Linked DNA regions of Homo sapiens. The protein of the gene in region 2 purifies or fractionates together with the protein of the main gene of each other region. This does not show direct contact. Each region holds a gene or a part of one and is shown on either strand. Other genes may lie near its edges.

What was found.
Region 1: the proteins of TMEM39B (region 2) and RAB33A purify together in Homo sapiens (affinity purification with mass spectrometry; one large-scale study listed by BioGRID and IntAct). This does not show direct contact.

What each region holds. Positions count from the first base shown.
Region 1 is NC_000023.11:130,178,458-130,182,268, reverse strand, and holds part of RAB33A (ras-related protein Rab-33A), read right to left. Parts: intron 1-3,811.
Region 2 is NC_000001.11:32,071,393-32,075,762, reverse strand, and holds the start of TMEM39B (transmembrane protein 39B), read right to left. Parts: upstream 2,825-4,370; 5' UTR 2,716-2,824; coding exon 2,712-2,715; intron 2,263-2,711; exon of another isoform or gene 1,891-2,262; intron 813-1,890; coding exon 686-812; intron 161-685; coding exon 1-160. UniProt on the Homo sapiens protein: May protect the cells against DNA damage caused by exposure to the cold-warming stress and facilitates tissue damage repair during the recovery phase.

The DNA.
Region 1 (3,811 bases), on a different chromosome or scaffold from region 2:
ACATATATGTTATATATAGTGTATATGTTATATATATTACATATATATGTTATATATATTGTGTGTATATATGTTATATATATGTGTATATATATATATATATATATATATTTTTTTTTTTTTTTTTTTGTAGAGACAGAATCTTGTTATGTTGCCTAGGCTAGTCTCGAACTCTTGGCCTCAAGCAATCCTCCTGCCTCGGCCTCAAAATGTGCTGGGATTACAGGCATGAGCCACTAGCCTGAATAACTTTTTAAAGAAAACAAAGTTAGTATTAAAATCTCACCTTCAAGCCCTATTTATTTATTTATTTATTATTTTGAGATGAGAGTCTTGTTCTGTCGCCCAGGCTGGAGTGCAGTGGTGTGATCTCAGCTCACTGCAACCTCCACATCCTGGGTTCAAGAGATTCTACCACTTCAGCCTTCTGAGGAGCTGGGATTACAGTCGTGCGCCACCATGCCCAGCTAATTTTTGTATTTTTAGTAGAGATGGGGTTTCACCATGTTGGCCAGGCTAGTCTTGAATTCCTGACCTCAAATGATCGAGCCTCCCAAAGTGCTGGGATTACAGGCGTGAGCCACCATGCCCAGCCTCCAATTTATTTTTAAGTTCACTTTTTGGTTATGTAAAAGGAACTTAATTCACTGGATTTTTCTTCTGTATCTCAGCTTTTGGGATAAAGGCCAAATTATGAAGAAAAAGCTGCTATCTGTAACATATGCAAAGACATAACTCCCAGGAGATATACATTCAGCCCAATCTATTTCCCTTTATATATCCAACGTCTTGGACAAGGGAGATTCATGCTCAGAATGATGGTCCCAAGGCCCTATACAATTCTCAGTTATCAAAGAAAATTTGATTATGGCCACTAATTGACTGCTATGGCTCTTAAAACGAAGTATAGCCTTTATTTGGAGTTAGCAGTCAGTAAGTATAATCTAGTAAATATAATTGAATCTGTCGGCTGAGTGAAGATTTTACAGGGCCCTAGAGTCATCATTCCGAATATCAGTTTTCATTGTCCAGGCTCCCCGTCATCTCCCTCTATTGACACAGCTTCCAAGTTCCTCTGGCAAGACCTTCAGATTGAACCCTTCTTCTATTCTGATTTCTGTGTCCCTCGGCCCTCGGCCAGCCTCTCCTCTCCTCACTCCTGGACTAGAGCAAAGTATTTTGGATTGTGGATGTTTCCATTGCAGGGTCTCCTGAACACTGCTCGCTTGCTTGCTTTTTTTTTTTTTTTTTTTTTTTTTTTGAGATGGACTGTTGCTCTGTTGCCCAGGCTGGAGTGCAGTGGTGCAATCTCAGCTCACTGCAACCTCCACCTCCCAGGTTCAAGCGATTCTCCTGCCTCAGCCTCCCAAGTAGCTGGGATAACAGGCGTGTGCCACTGCGCCTGGCTAATTTTTGTATTTTTAGTAGAGATGGGGTTTTGCCGTGTTGGCCAGGCTGGTCTCAAACTCCTGACCTTAGGTAACAAAAAAGTGAACTTAAAAATAAATTGGAGGCCAGGGCGCAGTGGCTCACGCCTGTAATCCCAGCATTTTGGGAGGCTGAGGCGGGCGGATCACGAGATCAGGAGATCGAGACCATACTGGCTAACACAGTTAAACCCCGTCTCTACCAAAAAATATAAAAAAATTAGCTGGGTGTGGTGGCAGGTGCCTGTAGTCCCAGCTACTCGGGAGGCTGAGGCCAGAGAATGGCATGAGCCCGGAAGACGGAGCTTGCAGTGAGCCGAGATGGTGCCACAGCACTCCAGCCTGGGCAACAGAGCTAAACTCCATCTCAAAATAAAAAATAAATAAATAAAAATAAATTGGAGTCTGAGTATAGTGGCTCACTCCTGTAATCCCAGCATGTTGGGAGGCCCAATCACTGCCGATCCACCTGCCTCAGCCCCTGAAAGTGCTGGGATTACAGGCGTGAGCCCCAGTGCCCGATCTCTGAATACTGGCTTTCTGACTAGCTTTAGTCAATCCCTGCTTGTATCAGCATGCCATTCACCTCTTCAGGAAACGACTGCAGCCCTCTACTGTATGTGGCATCACATGGATTCCACATGTGGAATTCTGTCTGCCATAATTTGACCCTTCCCAACCTGGTTTCAAACTACTCAGCTACACCTGGTTGATTCCCTCCTCTGTACTTTGGGTCATGCTAGTCCACTCCTCCCCTATAGAATCAGCTGCCCCCTCATTGCCCTATCCAAATCTCACCCATTCTTCAAGGTTAAGCTCACGCCTCAGGCTTCTTCCTCAAACCTTCGCCAACTTCCCTTCAATTCTCTTTTCTTAGGAATCTCTGTTGCACTTTGAGTCTGCATCATACCATTTTGAATAGATTTATGTTTTCTAATTGTCTCGTCAGTGCTCTTGGCATCTCTCCAGCAAGACTGTAAGCAGTCTTTTTCTGCATCAGACCACACTCGTCACTGAGGTTGTCATCATCATCATTATCAGCAGCAGACACATTATCAAAAGGCAGTGATGGCCTGAACCACTAAAACTACAAGCAGTCTGGCATCCTAGATATGTGCCAAGGGGATTTCAGAGAGAACGTCTGACTGTGATCACACAGAAAAAACATAAGTCCTCAAAGACTGATTTGCTTCTGCAAGCAAGAGACAGAAAATATTTTCATTTCTTCCACCTCTCCGTGGTGTTCCGAACAGGAAGAAAGGGAGAGCAGACCACAGGAGGAATGGAGGTCAGTAGGAAGACAGCAGGCATAGCCCAGGAATATCATTACCACTTGGCTCCTGATCCCCACTCCCCCCACCCCCCAGGAGTCTTCACTCTTGCCTTTTGCCTCTGAAGAAGTCTGAATCCCTACCAGCCCTCAGGCATGTGGCAGATGCTTTAACACCATGAGCTCAGGACTCTAAAAATACCTGCCACTAGCAGGAACACGGGTGGGAGTGTGTGAGGTGTTTGAGGCTGAGTGAGGTTGGCCATTTGGCTTTTCTTTGGCTTCATAATTGCGTATGCCGCCCAAATTGCCGGAACTGCCAGGAGGGCCCTCTCTGCTGGAGACCTCCTCTGTCTTTCCAACACTATTGGGAGCCTTGAAGCTTTTATTTGGAGGCTCCGAATTTAAACTGCAGGCACTGCTCCCTTCCAGCTCTTTGTAAACCCCACCCTGAGTTCTTTGCAGACGTGTCTGTCGTGAGAGGGGAGCCAGGAAGCAGGCTGCTCGCAGCAGAAAATAGAAGAACCAGTGGTGTGGCCTCAGAACCATCAGAAAGGAAGATCACAGCAGGCAGGCTCCCTAAACACATGAAATGATCTCATTAAAAAAAAAAAAAAAATCGCCGGGCGCGGTGGCTCACGCCTGTAATCCCAGCACTTTGGGAGGCCGAGGCAGGTGGATCACAAGGTCAGGAGATCGAGACCATCCTGGCTAACGCGGTGAAACCCTGTCTCTACTAAAAAATACAAAAAATTAGCTGGGCGTGGTGGTGGACGCCTGTAGTCCCAGCTACTCGGGAGGCTGAGACAGGAGAATGGCGTGAACCTGGGAGGCGGAGCTTGCAGTGAGTCGAGATGGCGCCACTGCACTCCAGCCTGGGCGACAGAGCAAGACTCTGTCTCAAAAATAAATAAATAAATTAATTAATTAATTTTAAAAAATCAGACATGGTCTCGCTCAGTCACCCAGGTTGGAGTGCAGTGGCATGATCTCGGCTCATTGCAGCCTCAACTTCCCCAGGCTCAGGTGATCCTCCCACCTTGGCCTCCCGAGTAGCTGGGACTACAGGCATGCACCACCACACCCGGCTAATTTTTGTATTTTTTGTAGAGAT
Region 2 (4,370 bases):
GATGTAGTGGACGAAGAGTGCTATGAGCTGGCAGAAGAAGAGCTGCAACTCAAACAGAATGCTGGCCTGGACTGGCAGCTCGGGGATCTTGCAGTGCTGTAGAGGCACAACAGTTTGGGTGGCCAGAGGAGGGCTGGAGAGGCCTGTTCCAGAACTGCTCCTGACAGTGGGGAGGGAACAACATCAGCAGCTGACCTGAGAATCCTACCAGGAAGGGCTTCTGAGGCAAAGGATTGTGGGATAAGATCAGAAAAGCAGCTCATAGCAAGGACGGGGTCTTCCTAATCCTGCTTGTCAGACAAAGGAACCCGACAAAGCCTTTTCCTATCCCTAATCTTATTCAGGTCTTCCAACACCCCCTAGGAGAGAAAGAATTATTAGGTCCATCTTACAGATGAGGAAAAGGAGGCCCAGAGAAGGGAGGCAACTTGTCCAAGCCATCAGCAAATCTGGAGCAGAACTGTAATTAGAATCCAGGCCTTTGGATTTATTCTACCATGTCCCACTGCATCTGTCCAAGTGATCACCCTCAACTGAGCTCCCTCTGGATCTTTTCTGCTGCTTACTCCCCTCTAAGCCCCCACTGGCATCTAGGATTTCACATCTTAGAATCCAGTCAGAGAGAGCCCTGTCCACATCGTCCCTGTGAGGCCACAGTGAGGGGTGAGACAGAGAGGTGGTTTACCTGGTGCGGGAACGAACACTGGTCACCGATGCACTGGAAGTGTGGCTTCCACTAGAGCCCCCCGAGGATCCCGGCTCACAGAGCGGATTTCGACAGTAAGATGTCCTGTTGGGACCTCTTCGTCCTCCTGTGGGGCTCAACATAAAATAGAGCCTCAAGCCAGGGGGCATATATCAAGGATAACAGCAATGATACCAGCTGCCAGTCACCTAGTATCTCACTTTATCATTTAATCCTCACTGAGACCTATGATCTGGCCCCTTCTTACATCTTCAGCTTCATCCCCTATCATTCTCTACCTCACACCCACCCTCTACCACCCGCCCCATGCTCTAAACATCTTGATCTTTCTTTCCTCAGCAAGCCAAGCTCATTGCTACCTCTAGCACTTATAATATCCTATCTGGAAAGCCTTTCCCGGACTGCCATTTCTGAAGTTTTGAAGTAACTCCCCATCACTCTCTCTCCAATTTCTATTCTTTTTTTCCACCAGAATTCACTCTCTGAAATTATCTTACTCATTTGTTAATATGCTTATTGCTTGTCTGTCCTATTACAATGAAAGGTCAATGAGGTCAGTTACCTTATCTTTTTCACTGCTATATCCCCTACCTCAGTGCCCAGCAAGTATATGTTGATGAGTGAATGAACCCAGCAAGGTAGGTTTTTCACACATTAGGAAACTCAGCTTACACTATGTCACAGTATCGTGGCTGGGTCGTGTGCTCTCAACTCTGGTACACATTGGGCCCCATTCAGACATAAGTTTCTGGAGGCCTATAACTCTGGGTAACTTTGGGACAGCTTTTTCATCCAGGGCCCCATGATTCAGCTCAAAGGGCATTCTGGGATCTCATGGGCAGGACCCAGGGCCTAAATAAAGGGTCAAGGATATGGCTGGGAGAATCCTGTGGCTGTGGACTGAAAAATTGGACCTACTAGGCTGAGCAGTCTAGCCCAAGCTCCCACGCACCACTTCGCACAAAAGTTCTGCACAAAGCTCCTAAGCACCTAAAAAAGTCACAACCTGACTGGGTGTGGTGGCTCACGACTGTAATCTCAGCAATTTGTGAGGCCGAGGCGGGAGGATCGCTTGAGACCAGGAGTTGGAGACCAGCCTGGGCAACATGGCGAAACCCGGTCTCTATTAAAAAATATATATACATACATATACATATTTTTAAAAAGTTATAACCTGTTCATACCTCTTCACAGTAACACAGCAGCCTCCATTCACATACACCCCACGCCGTAGCATCTCAGCTCGGAAGCGTTTCCCACACTTCGGAGCCAATTTTGGGCTTGGATGTATGCCCAAAATTATAAACCTCCACAAGTCTCTAAAAAGTACCTGGCGAAGAGCTCTGCCCTCCATAAACCCCCAGACCAGAAGCTCTGTTCATACGCTGTTATACTTGGCTTAGAAAATCCCACACAAACACCCTTAGTCCAGTCCAGAAGCTCTGCCCACACCCACTCTCCTCTCTTTAGAAGCTCTGCACCCACATAAAGCCCCTCAGCCCAGAAGCTCCGCCTACACACAACTGTCAGCCCAGAAACCCCGCCCACAAGCCAATAAAAGCCCTCTCAGCCCAGAAGCCCCACTCCAGAATGGGCTCCCTCAGTCGGAAGTCTCCCCGCTCCACCGCCCCCAGTGTAACCCCTCCAACCCAGAAACGCCGACTGCACTAGCGCCCCCTGCCCAGAATCTCCACCCTTAGCGCTGAAGCCACGCCCACTGGTAAGTCCCGCCCCCCTTTCTAGCCCCGACGAGCTGGTCCTCACGAAAGCCCAAGCCCCCACAGGGCTTCGTCTTAGAAGCCCCGCCCACCGTCCAATGTCCCGCCCCCACAACAGAGGCCCCACCCCGCAAAACGACAGGAGGGGGCGGGATCCCGTCTGCGCTCGCATCCCCTCCCCCTCCCGTCACCGGGCTCCTGTCCGCGTGGAGCAGCAATTAGCAGCCTGGCCATCCTAACCCGTGCGCCCGCTCGTTGCCAGGCCGAGCCTGAGCCGCTCTGCTCACCCATCTCCTCCCCCCGGTGCTCTCCGCTTCGCCGCCGCAGCTCCTGCGGGCAATATGTCGGAGGCGACGGCGGCCGGGAGAGGACTAACCGCCGCAGCCCAGTCCCGGGTATCAGCCGCGCGCTCCCGCCGCGCCGCTACATTTGCATACAAGGCGGGCTGGAAGCTGGCGCGCGCTTCTTAAAGGGGCCGCCCGGACGGAGGCGGTGCCTGCGCGCTCTTTGTCTCTCGGTCCCCCACGCCCTTCCTGCAGCTGCTGGTGAAGAGACTCAAGAGGGAGGGGAACGGAACCCACCTCCTGCTCTTCCCGTGCGTGTCTTCTCTCAGCATCTCCTGGACCGGGGCGGCGGCGACCGGAGGAGGGTGCGGAGCCGCCTCTCCGCTCCCCTAGGGGTGGACCATATCCCTGACCGGTCCGCAGGCACCTCCAGCCCAGCCCCACGTTGCGCTTCATCCTTCTCTTAGGCCTCACTGCGCTTTAGTCCACCCCAGTCAAAATCCAGGAGTCATTTCCTCCCTCCCTCGGCCCCCACATCCGATCTTTGCCTTAGTCTTTGTGAGCCTAAGTCCTAAATATTTCTCACATTTGACGTTACTCACCGTTCTCATTGTCAACACCGTGGTTCAGATCCTGACTGCCATTTCCCAGCCTTGCAATCTTGTTTTTTTATGCTTTACGATGAGGCTGCTGATGGTCACCGTGTAGGTTTCGGTGAGGGTTAAATGAAATAGAGCATGCAGAACTGAGTCTGTTTTAGTATTAGCCATCACGATGTTTGGAGAAGCATTGACTAAATGAGCTACATTTATTGTCATTAGGATTCTTCCCTCACAAGACCTACAAGCAGTTTTAGTCATCTTGTAGCTCCATTGCTTAGCACAGTGCTTGGCACTTAATAGCAGTATTCAATTAATTGAATGAATTAGTAGATATTTCATTAATAGTCATAGAGCTTACAGTCAAGTGGGAGGAGATAGACATGAACAAAATTGGTAAATTCTGTAGTATGTTAGATGGGAATGGTGTGAAGGAAAAACAGGAAAGGGGGATGGGGTTGCAGTTTTAAATAGGGCAGGCAGAGCAGGCTTCAGAGTTGACTTGAGTAAACACATGAAGGAAATGAGTGAGTCAGTGGTGCAGATTTCTGGAGAAAGGGGGCATTTCAGGCAGAGGGAATAGTTAGTGCAAGGTCCCTCAGGCAGGAGGGTGTATTTATTTTATTATTTTGTTTTTTGAGGGGATGGAGTCTCTGTTGCCCAGGCTGGAGAGCAGTGGCTCGATCTCGGCTCACTGCAACCTCCACCTGCTGGGTGCAAGCGATTCTCCTGCCTCAGCCTCCCAACAAGCTGAAATTACAGGCGTGCACCACCATGCCCGGCTAATTTTTGTTTTTGTTTTGTTTTGTTTTTTTGAGACTGGAGTCTCCCTTTCTGTTGCCCAGGCTGGAGTGCAGTGGTACGATCTCGGCTCACTGCAACCTCCGCTTCCCGGGTTCAAGCGATTCTCCTGTCTCAGCCTCCCAAGTAGCTGGGATTACAGGCACCCGCCAGCATGCCCGGCTAATTTTTCCATTTTTAGGAGAGGCGGGGTTTCACCATGTTGGCCAGGCTGGTCTCAAACTCCTGACCTCAAATCATCCACCCACCTCGACCTCCCAAA